3 linked regions of the Homo sapiens genome follow. The protein of the gene in region 2 purifies or fractionates together with the protein of the main gene of each other region. This does not show direct contact. Each region holds a gene or a part of one and is shown on either strand. Other genes may lie near its edges.

Region 1 (7,741 bases), on a different chromosome or scaffold from region 2:
GGATCACCTGAGGTCAGGAGTTCGAGACCAGCCTGGCCAACATGGTGAAACCCCATCTCTACTAAAAACTACAAAAATTAGCCAGGCATGGTGGTGCGTGCCTGTAATCCCAGCTACTTGGGAGGCTGAGGCAGGAGAATCGCTTGAATCCGGGAGGCAGAGGTTGTGGTGAGCCGAGATCACGCCACTGCACTCCAGCCTGGGTGACAGGCCTCCATCTCAAAAAAACAAAAACAAAAACAAAAAAAACCCTGCATGGTTCCCTGAGGCCCCTATCCATGCTCCTTAGCCAGCAAAAGCAGCTGTCAGCCATCTGTCCCAACTGCATCTCCCAACTCGCTACCTTGTGCTCCCCACTCAGCTACACAGCCTCCAGCTTTGCACACACCTCCCGCCCCTTGCCTTTGCTCAGATGGGGTCCCATGCCAGAACGTCCACCCAGCAGCCCTCACCTGGCTCCTGCCATCTCCTTGAAGACTATATTCTCCCTAGGAGGTCTCCCACCCCCAGCCCTCTGATAGGGTACATGGAATTGCCATCATCGTTTATACACGTTTCCCCTACAGGTGTGGGAGAGCGTGTAGGGTTGCCTGTTTTGTCGATTGGTACTTCCATTACCAGGTACAGTGTCCAGCACAGAGCAATATGACTCTACAAATACTGGTTGAATAAATGAAGAAATCAAACATTGTTATTGGGCCAGGCATGGTGGCTCATGCCTGTAATCCCAGCATTTTGGGAGGCTGAGGTAGGCAGATTACTTGAGCTCAAGAGTTCAAGACCAGCCTGGGCAACATGGTGAAAACCCATCTCTACAAATACAAACAAATTAGACAGGCGTGGTGGCGTGTGCCTGTGGTCCCAGCTACTAGGGAGGTTGAGGTGGGAGGATTGCTTGAGCCCGGGAGGTGGGGGCTGCAGTGAGCCATGACTGTGCCACTGCACTCCAGCCTGGGTGACAGAGTGAGACCCCATCTCAAAAAAATAAAAAACATTAAAAAAAAAAAAAGTAACATTAGTTACTCACAGTAACTAATGTTAAATGAATGCTTGTTATCTCATGCAATCCTCACATTTCTGTGAGCTGTGTCACATTATCAATCCCACCTCACAGATGAGGACACTGATGCCTGGAGAGAGCCCATGAGGACCCAAGGCCATGCGCCTAAGACATGGAGAAGCTAAACACAAACCAGGCGGCCTTTATTTACTTTGATGCCACCAGGCTCAGGCCCACCAAATGGCTTCACTTCACACCCAAGTCCCCTCCCACACTGGGTTTGTCCCTGCTTCCTGCCTCACTCCTGCCCCTCAAACAAAACAGAAGACCCCTTGGGCCCTCCCTTCCAATGCCCAGGTCTAACCCTGGTGCCCTTTTCCTCCATCCTTCTACCCCCTGCTCCTGGGCAACCAGGCATCAACCTTGTGCTTCCATTAGTATGGGTGTCACATGCCCCACAGCGGGCAGGGGCCCACCTACATGACCACCTCATCTTGTTCCCTTCTGTATCCACAGCCCCAAAACCCTCTCCTCCAGGGCCCAAGCCACCACCCACAGACACGGTACTGCAGGGTACATACAGGTAAACCAGGTGCACCTGCATCATGGAATCCTGAGGCAATCCCTTAGAAGCCTTCCCACATGCTGCCCTCGGACAGTGCAAATCTGGAGGTGGAACAGGCACAGAAAGCCTCCATCTGCCAGGCTGGGGGAGCCCTGGCAAGAGGGCTGCATGCGAAAGGGGTAGGGACCAGAACTCTCCTCCCTGATTCACAGGTGAGACCTGAAGTGCAAGGAATGGCACCAGATAAACTCACCCAGTGTTTTAGGAATGAAGGGACGAAAGGAGGAGAGGTTCCAGGGCTCAAGGCAGAGAGAGCAAAGACAGAGGCTCCAAGTCAACTGTTCCGGGGAGTCTGAATGCATTTTCCCATGAGAACCTCATTGGGCAGCTCTGGGCAGGAAGGGGCCATTTCACAACCTGCAGCACCCGGTTGGTGTCTATCAATCGGATCCTAGGAGTCTTCCCAACATTGCCGGCCTGTGACTCCTCTTGCGCGCCCCACCTGCGTGCCCCACTGAGGAGGGCTGCAGGGCCATCGAGCACACACCCGGGAGGCAGGGCTGCGTCCTAAGTTGGGGGGCGTGGGGAAAGCACAGGGTCTGTACATCCATTCATCCAACACCTGTTAGCCGAGGTCTCCTCTGTGCCGGGAACTGTGCTACTGTCCGGAGACAAGCTCCTATTTGGGGGTCAGAGAAGTGGGGGTTCACCTGCACACCCGGAGCAAGGGGCCACCCCGAGTGGGAAGCCTCGGGGGAGAGGGGAGGCCCGGCGAGCCCGTGGAGAAGAGTTTAGGGTAGGAGAGGCCCAGGGCCCCCAAAGAGGGCTCAACACCCCTTCAAAGAGGTCAAGGGCTTAGGGGTTCAGCGATCCTCGGCGGAAATCAGCGCTTTGTGGGCGGGGCCAGTGTCCCCGCGGAGGGACCAGCCTCGGGGGAGAGTTCGGGATCCCACGGGCGGGGTCAGGGCGGCCGGGCGGGGGAGGGGCGCCCTGGGCCGGGGTCTCAGGGACCCGCCCGGCGTCCGGGGCCGTCGGGGGGGTCGGCGTCTCCGTGTCCGGGGGCGGCGCCTGTCACCGCCCGGGCTTCGTGTTACTGAGGGGGGGCGGCGGTCGCGGCCCCAGCCCGCCCCGCGCCGCCCGCTCGCCCGGGGCCCCGCACTCACAGCAGGTCGGGCCGGTGCCGGTGCAGGATGGCGCAGAAGGCCAGGCCGTCCCGGAAGGAGCTGCTCAGGTCGCGGATCTCCACGCCGCGGTAGCCCTCGCACTGGCGGCGGCACCAGGCCAGCAGCGCGCCCCGCGGCCCAGCCATGACCCCGCGGCCCGCCCGGCTCCGGCTCTGGCTTCGGGGCCCCGGCTTGGCCGGGACGGCGGCCGCCGCGCGGGCCCGGTTTCCGGCTGCGGCTGCGGCTCCGAGCTCGGGCGCCGACCGGCAGGCGAGGGGAGGGGCGGAGGCGGGGCCGCGGTGTCCTCGCTCGGGCGCCCCGCGGCCCTGCCCTAACCTGCCCGAGCAGCGCCGCCGCGTGGCCCGGCCCGGCCGGCCGCCGCCTACTCCGCGCTGCCCGCTCGCCTCATTGTGGGCCGGTCGTGGGAGCGGGCGTCCCGCCGCCTCCGTCCGCGCCGGAGGCGCGCCCCACCCAGCAGCAGCTCCGCCTCCAGTGCGGAGCCCACCCCTACCAAGACGGGCCGGCGCCCCATCGCCCGCCCCTCGACGGCGCCGGGCTCCCGCTGCTCCACTGGGTGCCCGCGAAGCCCCCGCACCCGCCGCAAGCGGACCACTCCCCACGATGACTTCACCGCCGCGGCCGCCGCCGCGCCACCCACCGGGAGCCCTCCACCCTTTGGAGGCGGGACACCTCGTGCTCCCATCCGGCCTCCTTCCCGCTCCTAATGACCGCAAATCCCCCCTTCCACCCCTAGCTTGAAACTTTGGGGAGGCAGTTCCCCTGCAGACCTCAGAGCACCCCCCCCCGGATAGCCACCAGCTTCCCTCATCCCGGCTCCCCACCCTAAAGCACCGCTGAGCTGGAAGTTGTCATGTCCACCATCCCCTCCCCCATAGCTTGGCAGGGAGACCCATGCGCCCCTCCGCCACCTTTGGTCCAGGTGTCCCCTAGGTGATTCACTGAGCTCCCCTCAGCCCCTGTGTAAGCTCAGGGATCTCGTCCCTCCCCACTGCGGCCTGCCGGGTCCCCTCAGCCATGGTTAGTGTGGTGGTGGTTTGAGTTCCTATGGGAAGGACCTAGGCCAAGGAGGCCCCTGCCTGGGAGGCATACAGGCAGTTTGTATCTGGCCCTGGAACCTCCCCAAGGCTCATTCTCTATCTTTGCCGTCTTCAAAACCCCCGCCAGCCAACCGACCCTTCCAGCCAGCCAACCCTTCCAGCCAGCCGACCCTTCCGCAGAGGCCCCTCCTGACTCTCCCACAGATGAATCAGCCTCCATCTGCTGCAGAGGTGGTGATGTCACCCTGACCCATGCAATAGTTAGCTGGAGTGGGTATTTCGCTCCCTCCCAAGGGAAGGAACAGGGTCTTAGTCATCTTCATCACCCCTGAGCACTCAGGGGAGTGGAAAGATCAGGCATTTTGGAGCCCTATTAACCCAATCTCCAATCCTGGCTTTCCCCACTCCCTTAGTCATGTGATCTTGTGCCTCCCTGGACCTCAGTTTCCACGACTTAAAAATGGAGATAATACCTGCTTTACAAGGTGGCTGAGAGGATTAAGATGTAAAGTGCCTTACCCTTTAGTTATCACTCATAAATTCTATTGACTCCTGGTACTTGGTAAACATGATGAAATGGACTGAAATATTTTGTACCCAGATTGTCATCTGGGCCATTCTGGGTAAATTATCAAGGAGAGAGGCCGACTTAGGGAATTCTACCTCTTCAAAGTCCACTGAGTCCCAGTCCAGAATACTGGCCCAGGGCCTGGAGAACCCAGCTTGCCAATCTGGGCTGGCCTAACACTCCTGCAACTGGAAGGCCGCCATCTTGGCTCAGTATATGGACTCTCAGGCCACCTAGGAAGAGCATGGCCAGAGTGCCTGGCTAGCCCTCTGGACTTCTCACCAGCCCTGAGCTGCCAACTCCTGCCCTGTCCCCTGTGGGATAACAGTGGCAGGAAAGCAGGATTCCGGATGCTTTTTATGAAATCAGGGACTTGGGTTCAGGATCCTGACACCAGCATCCACCTAGGCCTTCAAAGACCACCCAGGACTCTCATTAAAACCTAAGGGGGGCGGGGTTGGGCACCATGGCTCATACCTGTAATCCCAGCATTTTGGGAGGCCGAGGCAGGTGGATCACCTGAGGTCAAGAGCTTGAGAACAGCCTGGCCAACATAGTGAAACCCCGTCTGTACTAAAAATACAAAAAATTGGGCCAGGCGCGGTGGCTCACTGTAATCCCAGCACTTTGGGAGGCCAAGGTGGGCGGATCATGAGGTCAGGAGTTCAAGACCAGCCTGGCTAAGATGGTGAAAGCCCGTGTCTACTAAAAATAAAAAAATTAGCCAGGCGTGGTGGCACGTGCCTATAGTCCCAGCTACTCGAGAGGCTGAGGCAGGACAATCGCTTGAACCTGGGAGGCGGAGGTTGCAGTGAGCCAAGATCACGCCACTGTACTCCAACCTGGGGGACACAGCGAGACTCCATCTCAAAGATGGTGGGTTTTTTTGGCTCACGCCTGTAATCCCAGCACTTTGGGAGGCCAAGGCAGGCAGATCACGAGGTCAGGAGATCGAGACCAGCCTGGCTAACACGGTGAAACCTCATCTCTACTAAAAATACAAAAAATTAGCTGGGCGTGGTGGCACACACCTGTAATCCCAGCAGGAGAATGGCTTGAACCCGGGAGGTGGAGGACGCAGTGAGCTGAGATCGCACCACTGCACTCCAGCCTGGGCAACAGAGTGAGATTCCATTTAAAAAACAAAAAACCAAAAACAAACAAAAGAAACCAGGAGGGATTATAGCCCTGTCCTCACTAGCCTAAAGGGCTCCCTTTAGGTCCCTGAAGACAGCTCCATATCTGATCCTGTTGCCATACTAATAGCTTACACAGCACAGCCTGGTCACCCCCATTAGCCATTTGTGGGCTTTATAAACTCATTATCTGAGTCAGCTCACAATGTTTCGAAGTAAGGACCTGTACGACCACAGTGTGTGACCGCAGGCCAGACAACTCACCCTCATGAACCCCAATTTCTTACCCTATAAAATGAGGATGATAATACTTGCTTTGCCTGAATCCCAGGGTTGTGGGTAACAAGGTGAGATAATGGATGAGAAAATGCTGTGCAGACTGTAAATCCAGGGTTCAGGTGGAAGGTGGGTCTGTGTGTTTACAGGTGAGATCAGAAGCCACAGAGATAGGTGAGTAGGGCACTTGCCCAAAATCATGCTATAATTTCGGGATTAGAATTGAGAGACTTGGGCCCTTAATTCAGTGCTGTTTTGTTTTATTTTTAACTATCAATTAAGAAATGGGGCCAGGCACGGTGGCTCATGCCTGTAATCCCAACACTTTGGGAGCCAAGGCCAGGAGTTCAAGACTAAACCAGCCTGGGCAATATAGGGAGACCCTGTCTTTTTTTGAGACGAGTCTCTCTCGCCCAGGCTGGAGTGCAGTGGCACGATCTCGGTTCACTGCAACTTTCATCTCCCAGGTTCAAGTGATTCTCCTGCCTCAGCCTCCCTAGTAGCTGGGATTATAGGCATGGGCCACCAAGCTCAGCTAATTTTTGTATTTTTAGTAGAGACACAGTTTCGCCATGTTGGCCAGGCTGATCTCAAACTCCTGAGTTTAAGTGATGTGCCCACCTCAGCCTCCCAAAGTGCTGGGATTACAGGCATGAGCCACCATGCCCAGCCTGAATACATCATTCTTATCAAAAATTTAAAAATAAATCTAAAGTTCCAGTTTGACTGTCTCCTTCAACTCTAGTCCCCTCCTAAGAAGTAGCTGCAGTTGTCGGTGTGAAACAGCCTTCCACACCTTGTTCACACATTTATAGTCAAGCATGGATTCAACAATATTTACTGAGCACCTGTTGGGGGCCAGGAGCTGTAAACAAGTAAACAACAAGGAGGCCGGGCACAGTGGCACACCCTGTAATCCCAGCACTTCGGGAGGCTGAAGCAGGTGGATCACTTGAGGTCAGGAATTCAAGACCAGCCTGGCCCACATGGTGAAAATCCGTCTTTACTAAAAATACAAAAATTAGCCAGGTGTGGTGGCACACACCTGTAATCCCAGCTACTCAGGAGGCTGAGGCAGGAGAATTGCTTGCACCAGGGAGGAGAGGTTGCAGTGAACTGACACTGCGCCACTGCCCTCCAGTCTGGGCGACAAAGTGAGACTCTGTCTCAAAAAACACAAAAAACAAAAAACAGGCTGGGCGCAGTGGCTCACGCCTGTAATCCCAGCACTTTGGGAGGCTGAGGCGGGTGGATCATTTGAGGTCAGTAGTTTGAAACCAGCCTGGTCAACATGGTGAAACCCCATCTCTACTAAAAATACAAAAATTAGCTGGGTGTGGTGTGTGCCTGTAATTCCAGCTACTCGGGAGGCTGAGACAGGAGAATCACTTGAGCCTGGGGAGGCGGAGGTTGCAGTGAGCCAAGATCGTGCCATTGTCCTCCAGTCTGGGCAACAGAGTGAGACCCTGTCTCAAAACAAAACAAAACAAAAACAAGGAGAACCTCAGGTGGTGACTGGTGCTGTGACAGAGAATGATGGGGACAGATAGCATAGCCAGGGAACACCTCTTTGAGATGGTAACATCATTTAGGCTGAAGAACACCTAACTCCCAGGGAAGCAAGCTGAATGCAAACAGGTGAGAGCTGTCAGTATAGGTAGAGTTTGAATCCTTTCTCTCTTTTTTTGAGACAGGGTTTCACTTTGTCTCCCAGGCTGGGTGCACTGGCACAATCACGGCTCACTGCAGCCTCCACCTCCTGGAGTCAAGCGATCCTCCCACCTCAGCTTCCCGAGCAGTTGGCACTAACAGGCATGCACCACCACACCCAGATAATTTTGTTTATTTTTTGTAGAGACGGGAGTCTCACTATGTTGCCCAGGCTGATCTTGAACTCCTGGACTCAAGCAATCCACCTGCTTTGGCCTCGCAAAATGCTGAAGTTATATGCACAAGCCCCTGCATCTGGCTGAAT
Region 2 (7,755 bases):
GTGTTGGCCAGGAAGCCCGAACAAGTGTATGTAACTGTCTCCTCCTAAGGAGGCCCCAGCTCCCTCTAAGATGGAACTCCTCTGTGTGCTCAGCTGCCATGCCAGGGCTGGTGTGAAACTCAAACCAAGCAACGCACCAGAAATACGAGGGGCCCTGCAGTCACGGAAGATACTCATCTCACTCCACACATCCACTGAGGGCCCGCAAGGCTCCGTGGGGAACACACAACCCGGGCCTGCCCTCCAAAGGCCTGGCGTCCAGGGCAGCATGGGGAAGTGAGAAGCGATGGCCAACTATAAGAATGTCTCCCAGGCTGGGTGTGGTGGCTCACGCCTGTAATCTCAGCACTTTGGGAGACTGAGGTGGGTGGATCACCTGAGGTCAGGAGTTCCAGACCAGCTTGGCCAACATGGAGGAACCTCGTCTCTACTAAAAATATAAAAATTAGCCAGGCGTGGTGGCGGGAACCTGTAGTCCCAGCTACTTAGGAGGCTGAGGCATGAGAATCACTTGAACCTAGGAGGCGGAGGAGGTTGCGGTGAGCAGAGATTATACCACCGCCTGGGCAACAGAGTGAGACTGTCTCAAAAAAAAAAAAAAAAGTTCCCTAGAATCGCAGAGGACGGCAAGCCAATTCCAACCCCAGAGCCATGGCCCCAGGGACTCAAGGACACAGTGGCATGTGGCTGCTCCCCTCCTGCCTCTGGGCAGGGTCTCAGCTGTCCCCAGCACTGACTGACTCACAGACCCTAGAAGGAAATCGCTTCCTCTCTGAGCAGGCCCAAGGGACACAGCCAGACCCAGGAGGACAGTGTGCGCCCTTTGTCCCCAAAGCAGGGCGCTGTCACAGCGCTTCCTCCAAACTCATGCACCTCTGCTTCTCCTTCAAACCTCCAATTAAGGCATCTTCTCCTCAGTCACTTCCCCTGTTTCTCTGTCCTTGCTCCTGTAGCCCCGGGTGACCCTTCAGCCGGGGTGTATAACCCATGGAGTTGTGGCTGACAGGACAGTGTCTATCTTCAGTCACCGACAGAGGCTTCCAGGATTCTGATTTGTGTGTCCCCACGCGCTGGAATCAGCAATAATTAGTTAAGTGAGAAAAGAAGCGATGTCCACCTGGAGCGCAGGAAACGCGCCCGCTCCAGCAGCTGTGGGAATGCTTGGTCCAAGTGGGCTTCCCCCTCTGCTAACAGGAGACAGAGCTAGGGGCTCCGCGGAGACCCAGGCAATGGAGGTGCCCACCAGGGGCCTCACAAGCTCGTCACTTGGTTCCCTCTGCAGTGTGTCCTGTCTGCCCAGAAAGGACCTGACAGGGCGATGGAGAGAAAGAGAGCTGCTGCCATGAATCACAGGGCTCTGGAGCCGCCCCAGTCCAGCCTCAGGAGCCTGGGGCCCCTTGCCTGTTCCAGCCTCCGAGTTCCCTGCTCCCCAGAGAGCTGCCCCCCACCCCTTCCCTCTCTCTGGCCCCAGAACAGAGCAAGCTGTGTGTACCGGGCTGGCACAGCTCCCTCCGGCCTCCCAGAGCAAACACAGGCCCAAGCCCCGGGTGCAGCCAGGCCCCACAGCCCCAGCCTGACCTCTCAGCAAGCAAGCAAGGAGGGCTTGCACCTTGGCCCCCATTGAGCAGGTTGGCACCCTGTGCCTCCTGAGCTCAGCAGAGACCCAAATCAGTCCCCACCGCAGGCAAGAGCTCAGAAAGCAGGTAATGCAATCTTCCCAGCCCCGGGAGCCAGCACGTTCGGCTCCGAGAGGTCTTCCTGGGCTTGGCAGGGTCTCCTTGCAGCTGCACGGGCCAAGGTAGGAAGTCCCTGGTTCAGGGAAGACCCAGTCTCCCTACCTGAGGCCTGAAGGTACCCGGCCCCAGACCAGCCCCAACCTCTTCCAGAAGCTGGGGGCTTGCCCCTGGGAGGGAGCTCAGCCATTCTGCCTGGCCCATCCCTGGAACCTGAGTCACAGGCTGCGCCCAAGGGCTTCTTTCCCGGGCAGCCCCTCCCGGTGCGCCCGCAGCTCTAGGATTTGAGGACAGAGCGGGGGGGAGGGGAGGGGGCGTCAGTAGGCTGGTCCGAAGAGGGACAGCGAGGTTAGAGGGGCTGGAACCAGAAGCCAGAGCCAGCCAGGAGATCAGGAGGCTGGGGGAGGGGGTGGCGCAGCCAAAGCGGGAGGAGGCAGGGCCAGGGAGGGGCATAACAAAGGGGCACTTTTGGAAACCCGACCTGCCGGCCGGGGTGCCTGCTTCCAGATGACGCACTCCGAACCCCAGCCTCCACTCCAGAGCTCGGCGCCCAGAGGCTACGCGCCTCTGGCCTCAACCCTTATGGACCGCGCCCCTCGACAGGACCCCTTGCCGCCCGGAGCTGCATAACTCGGAGCCCGTGGAGCCACGCGGAGCGGCAGGGCCAGGCCTAGCCACCGAAGCTCTAGACTTCTTGGCCAAACTTGTTGAACTTGGTCTTGGCGGGGGTGGGGCCACTGATCACCGCCAAGGGGAGGGGACGCCCCCTGCCTGGGCCGGCCTTGCCGTGGGCTCCAGATGGTGGCCCCGGGCAGCGGACCCAGGAATCGGGGCTCGCTGCATAGGGCGAGGGATCGCCAGGGAGCGAGGACCCTCTGGGGCCTCGGGGCGGGCGCGAGGCGAGCGGACGGGGGCCCTCGAGGGGCCCCTGAAGACGGCTCAGCCCTCCAGCGCCGGCGCCGCCTCCCCCGGGCGGCCTGCGGAATTGCGAAGCCCGCGGCACCGCAGATGGGACGGCCCCTCGGCGCGGCTACGGCCCTTCCCGTCGGCACGCAGAGCGGGGTGGCCGGGGGCTCCCTGGGCGGGAGTCGGCTCCATTGCAAACTTCAGAAGCCGGAGCAGGAGAGGGCGGGCTCGAGCCACCGCACCCGCCGCCGCCTACCCGCGCGTCCCCTCCAGGGCACTCACCGCGTCCTCCCTGGGCCCCTCGGCGGGTGGGGGTCCGGCCACGCTCCGGCCCGAGTCCTGCCGCTCCTGGGCCCGCGCCGCGGCCTCCCGGAGCGCGCCGGGCCCTCCCCCGGGAAGCCCGGCCCCCGGCCCCCGGCCCCGCCCCTCTCCTGGCCGCCGCTGCCTCAACCCCACGCGGCGGGGCAGCGGGGCTGCAGGCATCGCGGCGACCAGCGGCTCTTGTGGCGCGGGTCGAGGTTTCTCTGCTTCGCCCGTGTGCGGAGTGCCTGGGCGGGCTCCCCAGGGTTGCGCCCCGGTGCCGCAGGGAGCCAGATTTCGGCTTTGCCTCTCCCGGACCGTTGCAGAGCCTGGGAGACCCGAGGGAGCAAGAAGGGACCGGGCCGGCACGGGCAGCCTTGGAGAGGGGCCGGGGGAATTACACTGCCTTACATTTTTAGCTGCACAGCTTGTTTAGAAATTGGCTCAGGCGAGGCTCACAACCACCCCTTGTAAGCATTAGGATTCCCACTGTACAGATGCAAAAACTGAGGCTCGGGGGCTTTTCAGAGGCTTGCCCAAGATTTCCCTCTAGTCAGGCAGGGCTGGGACTCCAAAACCGTGCCCTACCGTTCCACAGCTGCCCTGCTAATCTGGGGCGCCTTCTAAGGCCTGAGACGAACACGCGGTGGGGGTGGGACAAAAAGGCCTAAGCTCCTCCCGCTCCGAGTTCTTATTTCCAGATTTTGTACCACGATTCATTCTTACCCTTCGCCCCTCCACCCCCTTTATCAGTCTGGTACATTTTTCCATATCGCCACGATGCCACCCCACGCTAAATAAATCCCTTCTCCCTCCTCTCTCCCTACTTCCCTCTCCCCGCTTTCCCCCGGGGGTGAGATTTTGCAGAGCGGCTCCGTCTGTTATTTATATCCACTGGAGCGGTCCAAGAATGTTCCGAAGCTGACCTAATCGCCACCTGCTCGGCCTCTCCGCCCCTCCCACTCTCTCCTGGGCCCGGTGACCCAGCGGCGGTGCCCTGAGCCTTGAAGACCAGGGGGAGCGCGGACCAACGGGGTCGAACGCCCGGGCGCAGAAGGTCCCGGACGCAGAAGGTCCCGGGCGCGCAGAATCGCAGCGGGTCGGAGAGCCCCGGCGCTCTCAGAGGAGTGCGCCCCCAGGGACGCGGCTCTGAGCCCTGGGAAGCTGAGGCGCCTGGCTGCGCCCTCTGAAGCTCGTACTTTTCCTCCCACCCTCAGCTCCCTGAAGAGTGTGAGTGCGTGCGCGCGGAGTTTTAAACGGCAGCTTTAAAAATAGCAAAATTATGTTGTTTCTAAATCCAGGAGGAATCACTGACGCGTTCTTTACGCAGATGAATCCGCTCACAAAACGGGAAAGGGACCTGGAGAAAATGAATGGGGGTAATTTTGCCTGCCGAGGGCTCACTTGCTGGGCAGTGCTAATGGAAGGGTAAAACTGCCTCCCCAAGACACCTGTGGGGCACCCAAGGCGCGCCACCTTTGGCCTGAGGATTCTGGCCGTGTTTGGCAAATCATAGCTGAGTAGTGAATCTGAAACCTGGGATGTGGTTTCTGAGACCAATTTCAACACCCACTCTCTCTTAGGGCTTGGACAAGTCCCTTATCTCTATTTCTACCTCTATAAAACATGACAGGTGACCAGCTGACCTTCCGCTGAGCCATGAGCCCCAGCTAATTAATGATTGTAAAAAACAACTGCAGATCAGAGGAGCTGGGAAAATGGCAAATCACAGCCACAGGGTTTTGTATTCTTTAAAATCAGTTAACATCCCTCCTAGCGCCTGAAGGCCTTTAGGCACCTAGACCGAAGTGTGAAAACACAAGAATGAAATTAATTACAGGAGCCACCTATTAAAACCTCATTAAAAATAAAGTTGGCAGCCAGGCTGTGGGATCTGGGAAAGCCAGGCCATAGAGAGACTCAGAAAACAGGGCTGTTCATCAGACCACAAAGAGAAGGGGATGTGGACTGGAAAACATCTGGCTTCCCTTGGGCTCAAGTCTGGGAGCAGAAAGCAGAAATGTTGCAGCTGATCTTAATTGCCCCTGAGGTACTGTAGGGGAAAAAAAACAACAAAATAAAACCCAGAGCATAGGGGGCTGCTTCTAAGCTGAAAGTAGACAGACATGCCTTTGGAAAGCCAGCTCCAAGCTAATGCTACCCCCAGGGCTCCCATTCTGCGCTCTATGGCCAGAGCCCTTAACATCCACACTGCTCCATCAGTGCTGTCCTCAACCCAGAGTTCAAGATGAGATGTCAGTGGACAGAGGGCTGCATAAAGACAGAAATCTGGTCGGGCGCGGTGGCCCACGCCTGTAATCCCAGCATTTTGGGAGGCCGAGGCGGGTGGATCATCTGAGGTCAGGAGTTTGAGACCAGCCTGGCCAACATGGTGAAACCCCATCTCTACTAAAAATACAAAAATTAGCTGGGCATGGTGGCGGGTGCCTGTAATCCCAGCTACTTAGGAGGCTGAGGCAGGAGAATCGCTTGAACCTGGGAGGTGGAGGTTGCAGTGAGCTGAGATCGTGCCATTGCACTCCAGCCTGGGCGACAAGAACAAAACTCCATCTCAAAAAGAAAAAGAAAAAAAATGACAGAAATCTAAGGCTGGGCACAGTGGCTCACGCCTGTAATGCCAGCACTTTGTGAGGCTGAGGCAGGTGGATCACCTGAGGTCAGGAGTTCAAGACCAGCCTGGCCAATAATGAAACCCCATCTCTACTAAAAACACAAAAAAACTAGCAGGCGTGGTCGTGGACGCCTGTAGTCCCAGCTACTTGGGAGGCTGAGACAGGAGAATTGCTTGAACCCGGGAGGCTTAGGTAGCTGAGATTGCGCCACTGCTCTCCAGCCTGGTCGAAGGAAACTTTCTCTCAAAAAGAAAAAAAGACAAATCTAGCAAGGCATTTGGCTCAGGGTACCAATGGGCAGATTGGTCCATAGCCAGATTTCACGCCACTCACAGACTCACCTTGAGTTTCTGGAATATCCTAACCACTGTGCCTTCATTTGTTTATTTATGCATTCATTCACCCAGCCAAGAAAACACTTGAGTTTTTACTCCATGCTAAGGCTATGCTAGGAATGTTGGGAGTACAAAGTTAAATAAGGCAGAGTCCAAGTGTACCGTAATGATGCAAGGCAGATAGGAAGTATTGAGAGAAAACAGGCAGAAGGGACGGCCTTTCACAGGACATGACACTGATAGGTCTTGATGAGTAGGAATTAGTCACGTGGACAGGCATTCTAGGCAGGAGCTTCAGGGTGTGCCAAGCCCCAGGGGTGTTACCATATGACTTTGTGACCTAGCAATTCTACTTTTTGGTATTTACCCTGGACGAACATGTACAAATGCAGAAAGAGGTACAATGATGTTTGCATATAGTACTGTTTGCAACAGGGGAGAACTGAAAACAAATGTTCATCATGAAGGCAATAGTTGAACAACCTAAAGTTCATTCATGCTGTGGATTACTCTGCAAAAACTCAAGAACAAGCTAGAGGCAGGAGTTCGAGACCAGCCTGGCCAACAAAGTGAAACCCCTTCTCTACTAAAAATACAAAAATTAGCCAGGTGTGGTGGCGTGTGCCTTTAGTCCCAGCTACTTGGGAAGCTGAGACAGGAGAATCGCTTGAACCCAGGAGGCGGAGGTTGCAGTGAGCTGAGATTGCGCCATTGCACTCCAGCCTGGGAAGCGAGAGCAAAACTCCATCTCAAACAAAAACAAACCAAAAAAAAAAAAAAAAAAAAAAAAAGAACAAGGTAGAGAGAGACATATTCTTTTTTTTTTTTTTTCGAGACGGCGTCTTGCTCTGTCGCCCAGGCTGGAGTGTAATGGCGCAATCTCAGCTCACTGCAACCTCCACCTCCCGGGTTCAAGCGATTCTCCTGCCTCAGCCTCCTGAGTAGCTGGGATTACAGGCACGTGCCACCACGCCTGGCTAATTTTTGTATTTTTAGTAGAGACGGGGTTTCACCATGTTGGTCAGGCTGGGCTCAAACTCCTGACCTCATGATCCACCCGCCTTGGCCTCCCAAACTGCTGGGATTACAGACATGAGCCACCGCACCCAGCCAAGAGATGTATTCTTATAAGAAGACCTCCAAGACGATGTCAAGGGAAAAAAGCAAAATGCAAAACACACTAAATCTTCACAGAAAATATACTTCATACTGATTTTGGCGTTTATCTTTAGGCAGAGGTCTAGAATTGGTAAGGGACATTTTTGTAATGTTAGAAAATTTACAATGAGAATGTACCTATGTGTAAATTATGTAACTAAAATTAAAAACTGGGGGGTGGGCGAGTGGGTATTTGTATCTAAAATAGTGCTGTCCAATTATTTTCTGCAGTGGTGGGAATGTTCTATAGCTGTGCTGGCCAATATGATAGCCACTAGTAGCATGAGACTGTTGAGCACTTGAAATGTGGCTATTGAAAACATAAACTTGCCGGGTGCAGTGGCTCACGCCTGTAATCCCAGCACTTCGGGAGGCCGAGGTTGGGTGGATCACCTGAGGCTGGGAGTTCAAGACCAGCCTGACCAACATGGAGAAACCCCATCTCTACTATACAAAATTAGCCGGGCATGGTGGCTCATGCCTGTAATCCCAGCTACTCAGGAGGCTGAGGCAGGAGAATTGCTTGAACCTGGGAGGCGGAGGTTGTAGTGAGCTGGGATTGCTCCATTGCACTCCAGCCTGGGCAACAAGAGCGAAACTCCGTCTCAAAAAAAAAAGAGAAAACATAAACTTTTAATTAAAAAAAAATTTTTTTAACAACTGGTAATCAATTTATTAAAATTGTTGACT
Region 3 (7,013 bases), on a different chromosome or scaffold from region 2:
TGTTTTCATCAACAAAGTCTTATGCATAAATAACATAACATATTTTCTGAGATTGGGCAGTTTCTATGAAATACAAAGTCTGAAATAAGACTTTTATTAAAACTGAAATGTAACAACTCTGATCTTGTTATATAAAACCACAAACACACACATGTACACAATCTAAGAAGACATAAAATAAACACTTCCTTTAGGTTGTAATGTGCAAAGGTGAAATGCACAGAAAGATATTAACCATCTTTTAAGTGTAATTTTTCAGTTTTAAATAAAGCTTTTCAAGTGGTACTTATAGTGGAATAAAAACATACTTAAAATAAGCATTTAAAAATGTTTTCATTATTCCAAATAGTTTACAAAAATTTTAGACAAACTCCAACCATTATGGCCCACTTTAACATGCCTATCTGCTTTTTATATAAGCACACAGGTATTTATTAAGCATGTAAACCTCCTTTCCATTTATTACTATCCAGGAGGAATATGAAACCTAGATTATTATTCAGAGAGATATATAGCTAAGTGGACCTTCATTTAGCTTCATTCTACCCATTGATTTTGGTACTAACCCCATTAGGTAACCACGTGAAGAATAAGTCTTCTTTCTCTAGTAAGACAAACTCACCTTCCATCTGTTCCATTTAAAATGGCCTACCAGCCCCTTTGAGTTGAAGTCTTTCCCTGAATCAAGTTCCTTTTAGGATTCTTCTGAGGAGGGAAGGCCTGAAGGTTTCCTTCATTCCTTTATTCAGTACACAAATACTGGTGGAGAGTCTCCTGTGTTCTGGGCTATGCTTTCAGGAGACAAAGGATAAGACGTGGTCCTTTAAGAGTAGGCTGGGCACTGTGGCTCACGCCTATAATCCCAGCACTTTGGGAGGCCGAGGCAGGCGGATCACAAGGTCAGGAGTTCAAGACCAGCCTGGCCAACATGGTAAAACCCCATCTCTGCTAAAAATATAAAAAATTAGCCGGGCACGTGGCACATGCCTGTAGTCCCAGCTATTCGGGAGGCTGAGGCAGGAGAATCACTTGATCCTGGGTGGTGGAGGTTACAGTGAGCCAAGATCATGCCACTGCAGTCCAGCCTGGGTGACAGTGAGACTCTGTCTCAAAAAAAAAAAAAAAAGAGAATAAACCCCTCCAACTCTGCATTATGTAAATGAATAACTGAAACAAAGTGTCATGGGTCCTTGCCCTACCTAACAGAACCTACTGGGGGCCAAGAAAGGGAAGGGCTACTTCTATTTCTGCAATGAGGGAAGTATTCCTGAGGGGATAATACCTATGCTTAGGCACTTAAAATGATCGGCTGGGTGGTGAAATGAGGGGGAGATTCCCAAACGGGGAAATTGAGCGCAATCTTGGAAACGTGGGCAATTTTGAAACAGCTCTGCATAACTAGAAAGATTGGAAAACAGCAGTTTTCTCCTGTTATGTGAAAAGATTTATAGCAGCCAGGCATGGTGGCTTATGCCTGTAATTCCAGCACTTTGGGAGGCTGTGGTGGGCAGATCACCTGAGGCCAGGAGTTCGAGACCAGCCTGGCCAACATGGTGAAACCTTGTCTCTACTAAAAATATAAAAATTAGCCAGGCGTGGTGGTGGTCACCTGTAATCCCAGCTACTCGGGAGGCTGAGGCAGGAGAATCACTTGAACCCCAGAGATGGAGGTTGCAGTGAGCCGAGATCGCATCACTGCACTCCAGCCTGGGCAACAGGAACAAGACTCCTTCTCCAAAAAAAAAAAAAAAAAAAAAAAAAAGATTTATAGCAAATCTGTGATTATTATTTTGCTAATCACTGGCTACAGTGAGGATAGCTTAGTACCATTATGTGAAGACCACCAAGCTTGGTGGTGCTCTTAAGTGGTTTTGCCCAACATGAGCTTATTTCTTGCTTATGTGGATTCTGTTGTAGGTCCTGGGACTCTCCAGGGCAGCTGTGCTCTGGGTAATAGTTTAGCATTCCAGTCTTGTGTCACCTTCATTTTAATACATGCTTTCATGATTGCAGTAGCAAAGGAAGGGAACATAGAGACTCAAACACTGGCAGTAATTTCACCAGGAAATAAAGCATTTCATGTCTGTTCACATTTCCACTTATCAAAGTCACAGGGTCATACCTAATTTCCATGGGGTGGAGCATATAGTTCTCCCTAGGACCAGAAGGAGGACAGCAAAAAGTGGTAAGCACTGAAAATGCCTTCAGTGGTTACGAAATGTTATGAATGTTTTATGACTAAGATTAGCCTAATCTTACTGGTATTAGGGTCCATAATATTACTAGTATGTCATAAATTAAGGCTGAAACTAATTAAAGATTTAATCTTGTCTTGTGATTGAAAGTTATGGACTTTCAAGTAGTTTCACTGTTACTCAATATTTGCATCATTGTCTGTGCAAGCAACTGTAAAAGCTTGCACAGCTCTGTATTCAGAAGCATAAATGATTCATGAAATTGTTTAAACAGAGTTATTGTTTAAAGACTAAAACCCAGAGGTATTTAAATAAATTGCTTTACTCTTAGTTAAAATCTCTAAAAGCAACTTTTTCTAATATGGTTCCAGTATTGTAATCCAAATGAGCCATGTGTTTTTTTCTTTTCATATTTAAGATGCACTGAAAGGACATTATGCACTGAAAGAAATAAATACCAATGCCTGCGTGTGGTAGACAAATGGCACATTGCTAGGCATTTAGTTCAGCAATCTTTTTTTGTTGCTGCAATGGATAACCAACTAAAGGAGCATTAATATCAATTTAATTGTAATACCTGCCAAATGTTATTCTATCAGTGGCTAACACAGGTTTATTACTTGATGTTAGTGCTACAACAGAAGTCCCCTGCAGGATGTTCCTTCCTGTAAGATCTCTCCATCAGTTTAATCCAAATATGTTTTTAAAACTCTAATTTTAAATTCATTTCTTAATGTCACGTTGTTTTCTGAAAACACATTTTTGGGCCCATCAGAATGGCGCGCATCTTAAAACAATTGGCGCTTATGAAAAATATAAAATATGTAAATATATTAGGGTGGTGCAAAAGTAATTGCGGTTTTGTCATTACTTTTTAAAAAAAAAAAAAATGGCAAAAACCGCAGTTACTTTTGCACCAACCTAGTACCTGTCTGTCAGGTGTAAAGAATCATCTAAAGGGCATGCACGTGGATACTAAAACGTACAAACAAGCACACAGCTGTGTCTGATTCCTTTACCCTTGTAAAAGTTCCAATAAGTGAATACAATCTATTACTTAATTCTTAGTTTATAGACTGTCATTAGACATACTGTTGTCCAGTTCTCATGTCAGAGCTGTTATAGGCTTTTACAAAAAATGCCTCTGAAGACAGGGCAAGCTTAAACCTGCCACCAATTAGAAAGATCTGTGTCACAGGTGCGCTTTTAAAAGAATGGCAATCTTAAAGGTCAAGTTAAAAACACAAATTTAAAAAAACGATCCTGGACGTCGAGGGTCGGACTCTAGGGGGGGCAAGCTGCAGGCCCCACTCTGCGAGTTTCTGACCGCATTCCGCGGAGGCCCCAATCCTCCCCGCGGATCCTGGCAAGGCAGGTAACCTCCCTTCCCCCGCACCTGTCCGGTTCAGGCGCACCAGCCTTCCCGAAGCGCAGCCTAGCGGTGGGAATGGGAACACCTCGTCTGGGAGCTTTCTTTCGGTTCAGCTTCCCCAGCCGGACCCCAAAGACCCGAAGCCCTGGGGGAAGGAAATTCCAACTTGCTCCCGGCCCACCCCCGCCCCGTTCCTCTCTCCGGCTCGCTGCTTCCCTCGCTCCAATGCCGCCGAGCTGGTCCCCACTTATGTGCGGCCGTGCTGCAGAGGCGGCGGCGAGCTCCCGGACTCCGGGCAGGGAAATGGGGCAGGGTGAGTGAGAGAGCGGGCTCCAGCGAGGCCCCCAGCGCCCAGCCAGCGCCCGCACCCCGCCCGCGGGACAGGGGAGGTGCTGAGTCGGCCCTGCCCGCGCTGGGCTGAGCCTCGCAGGGGTTGCCGCTTCTCCATTCAAGTCCTGGCTTGAGAGCCGAGCGGCAAGAGCGCGGGCCGGGGAAGGGAAGAGTAGGAGAGGAAGCCGCGAGGGAGAACAGGCGAGCTACTGTCTCCTTTGGAAAAGAACGTAGGAGCCTTGGGTGGGAAAAGAGAGATCAGCCCTCCCAACTTCTCTTCGGGAAAAGTTTTCCTAGGGCGTTTTGTTTGTGCAAACTCGGCCGGAGGAGCCTGGGAGTGCGCTGCCGGCGTGGCAGCGGTGCCCGTGCGCCCGGCCCCGCTCCTCCTCCTTTTCCAGCCCCGGCGGCTCCTCTCCCTCCGAGAGGCGCCAAATGGCTACCCAGTAAACCCCACGGGGCGGGGGCTGCAGCGCCACCGCCTCCTCCGCCGTGCTCTGGGCGCCCGCTAGACCTTGTAGAGACGGCGGCGGCGCCCGCGGGCTGGGAGCCGGGGCCCGCAGGTGGAAGCGCACCCGGGAGGCGGGCCGGCCGGGGCTGGAGCGGCTCGGGCGGGCTCTTGACGCTCAGCCAGCTTCGCTCCGGCCTCGGGAAGGCGCGCGTCCCGCCCTGACCCGCCGGCCTCTCCCACCCCAGCAGTGACGCGCCGCCTGGGAGCTGGAGCCCGCGCAGCGCCCCGCAGGGCGATGGACGGCCGAACCCCGCGCCCGCAGGACGCCCCAGCCAGGTAAGCCCAGAGCGCCGCGCCGCCTCTCACCGGGGAGGGCGAGGCCGGCGAGGACAGCGAGGCCTCGGCCGTTTCACCTGGCTGGCAACTCGCTGCCCTGCCGGCGGCCTGACTCACTGACTGTCCTCCACGCGGCCGGGGAGGCTGCTTCCTCCCGGCCTTCTCGGAGGCCGCCCGGGCGGAGGGCTCGGGTCGTTTTTGGTTGCCTTCCTACCGGGGCTGCCCTGGGTTGCTACAGGCCAGCTGAATGCCAGGAATTGGGTGAGGAGTCCGGGAGCAAAAATTGTAACAAAGGGACCCTTGTTTGGGCTCTGGGGGAGCGGTGGACGATACCTGTAAGTGAGCTCCTGGGGAGGGAGGGCAAAAGTTTCCTTGGTCATGGGCTGAGGCCCAGGCAGGTGAGCAATGTCAAGGTGACTGTAGGGAGTGGGCTTTCTGCAGGCGGGTGGAGGGCGACAGGAGGGTGTGCCAGCTGTCAGCCCGCATGACAGTTCCGGGAGCGAGCGGGGTGCGCGCCTCTGATTGGGGGTGTGTGTGCCTGTGGCCAATTGCTGGTTCCAAAACCCAGCGCAAATCAGATTGCAAACAACTCTACTTTTCTTTTTATCCTCACATGTTTGAGAAGAGAGGAAGGGGGCTGTCACATGGTGAGTTAATATTAAATGAGGCATGTCTTCCTGCCAGATATGCTAATAGTTACCTTGTTAAGCGTTTGAGTAAACAGTAATGAGAACAGGTAGTTCTGCAAGAGATGAAGAAAACCTGAAAATAACCTTGGTCTTAGTAAATAGTTCAGGAGTAACCTGGATGCTAGTTGAGTTTCTCAAGTAGGAAACTCGTTTGATGTAGTACAAGATTTTTCCCCCCAGCATAAGTGTTCCTCCAACATAGTTTATTTTCTTAGTTAATCTGAATGCAGAAATGCCCTAATGAGAATACGAGCATTCCAGAAATAGAAACGTTAAGGAAAAATCGACGTTGTCACTAATGAATGAGACTTGTACAGTTTTCCTGATTTAAGAGTGTAGAAGTCATTTTTCCCTGGAACATGACAGGCGTTTCCTTAGAAGCAAGTCACAGCATGTTTATTCATCAGAGACCATGCGAACATTGGCAGCTGTCTAGAGGAAACATGGAAAAGTCTCAAAGCAACATGACTAATCTAAAAGATATTTAGTATAATTTTTACATAGAGGAAACATGTAGTGTATTAATTATTTCATTTTGCTCAAATTAACTTTCTCCTTTCTGCAAATATTACTCCCACTGTTGACTTTCATTTCTTTTCTTTCCCCAGGTTTTTCATTGCTTAAATATTTTCATATATCCTGACATATATTCTCACATTAGGATGAGTAAAGAAATATATCGGTAGAAAGATATTGAGCATACAAGCAAGGTTCCTAAGTGGAGCTGCAAAATTATGTGAATTGACGATGAGACAGCTGTCAGGATACCGAAATGTATTCAGGGATTGCAAAATGAGATAGAATTAAATTGGATTTGGAAATGGATTAGGTTAAGGTACTTTAAAAAACAAAAAAGAAAGAAAAACATACCTGCTTTCACAAAATACACCCATGGGTGTTCAGAAGTCACTGGGGACTTTTAAGTAAAATAGGTGAGGTCAGATGGCTCTGTGTTGAAGAAACAGAAGAACACTTTTTGCTGGCAAGCATAACTGTAGTAAGAACCTTCAGACTTTACTCTTGATATTTTATTTTAATGTAGAGACAAGGTCTTGCTATGTTGCCTAGTTGATCCGAAACCCCAGGCTTCAAGCAATCCTCTCACCTTGGCTTCCCAAAGTGTTGGGTTTACCAGTATGAGCCAGTGCGCCCAGCCACTTTTGAGAATTTAAAGGTTAAACTGATAAGTTCTTTGCTTAAAAAGAAAGTACAAAAGAGCCTTATCTAATTTGTCAAGCATTTGTAAAGGACTTTTGCCGTCCCCTTTTCAAATTTAAGTAGGGAAAATCTGTCAACACCTTATCTAAAATAACACAGTAGTTCTATCATTTTGCCTTACATTATTCTACTCAGAGAAGTTATCATTACCTGAAAAATATCAACATGAAAAAATTACCTCTCTACTTCATTTGTCTTATTTCACTTGTCTAACTTGTCCTTTGGCATATTCCGAATGCCTGTCATATAAGATTTGTTGAATATTTAATATTCAGTATTGCTTCTCTTCTCTCTCAAAAACCCAAATTATAAAAGGTTTAAACTGGGGGAAAAATATCTAGATAAGGGTATTTGGGAAGTGGCAGGCAGAAATCTTAATATGTTATAATTGTTAGGTTTTGGAGATAAATTTCTTGCTATAAAAC

What was found.
Region 1: the proteins of PACSIN3 (region 2) and MICALL1 purify together in Homo sapiens (affinity purification with mass spectrometry; 3 studies listed by BioGRID and IntAct, with this or other methods). This does not show direct contact.
Region 3: the proteins of PACSIN3 (region 2) and COBLL1 purify together in Homo sapiens (affinity purification with mass spectrometry; 4 studies listed by BioGRID and IntAct, with this or other methods). This does not show direct contact.

Annotation. Positions count from the first base shown.
Region 1 is NC_000022.11:37,901,556-37,909,296, reverse strand, and holds the start of MICALL1 (MICAL-like protein 1), read right to left. Parts: upstream 3,001-7,741; 5' UTR 2,875-3,000; coding exon 2,729-2,874; intron 2,467-2,728; exon of another isoform or gene 1,819-2,466; intron 1-1,818. UniProt on the Homo sapiens protein: Lipid-binding protein with higher affinity for phosphatidic acid, a lipid enriched in recycling endosome membranes. On endosome membranes, acts as a downstream effector of Rab proteins recruiting cytosolic proteins to regulate membrane tubulation.
Region 2 is NC_000011.10:47,183,428-47,191,182, forward strand, and holds the start of PACSIN3 (protein kinase C and casein kinase substrate in neurons protein 3), read right to left. Parts: upstream 3,008-7,755; 5' UTR 2,922-3,007; intron 2,421-2,921; exon of another isoform or gene 2,215-2,420; intron 1,949-2,214; exon of another isoform or gene 1,839-1,948; intron 1,308-1,838; exon of another isoform or gene 1,118-1,307; intron 1,071-1,117; exon of another isoform or gene 874-1,070; intron 1-873.
Region 3 is NC_000002.12:164,838,824-164,845,836, reverse strand, and holds the start of COBLL1 (cordon-bleu protein-like 1), read left to right. Parts: upstream 1-4,013; 5' UTR 4,014-4,127; intron 4,128-4,404; exon of another isoform or gene 4,405-4,590; coding exon of another isoform or gene 4,591-4,640; coding exon 4,641-4,681; intron 4,682-5,014; exon of another isoform or gene 5,015-5,088; intron 5,089-7,013.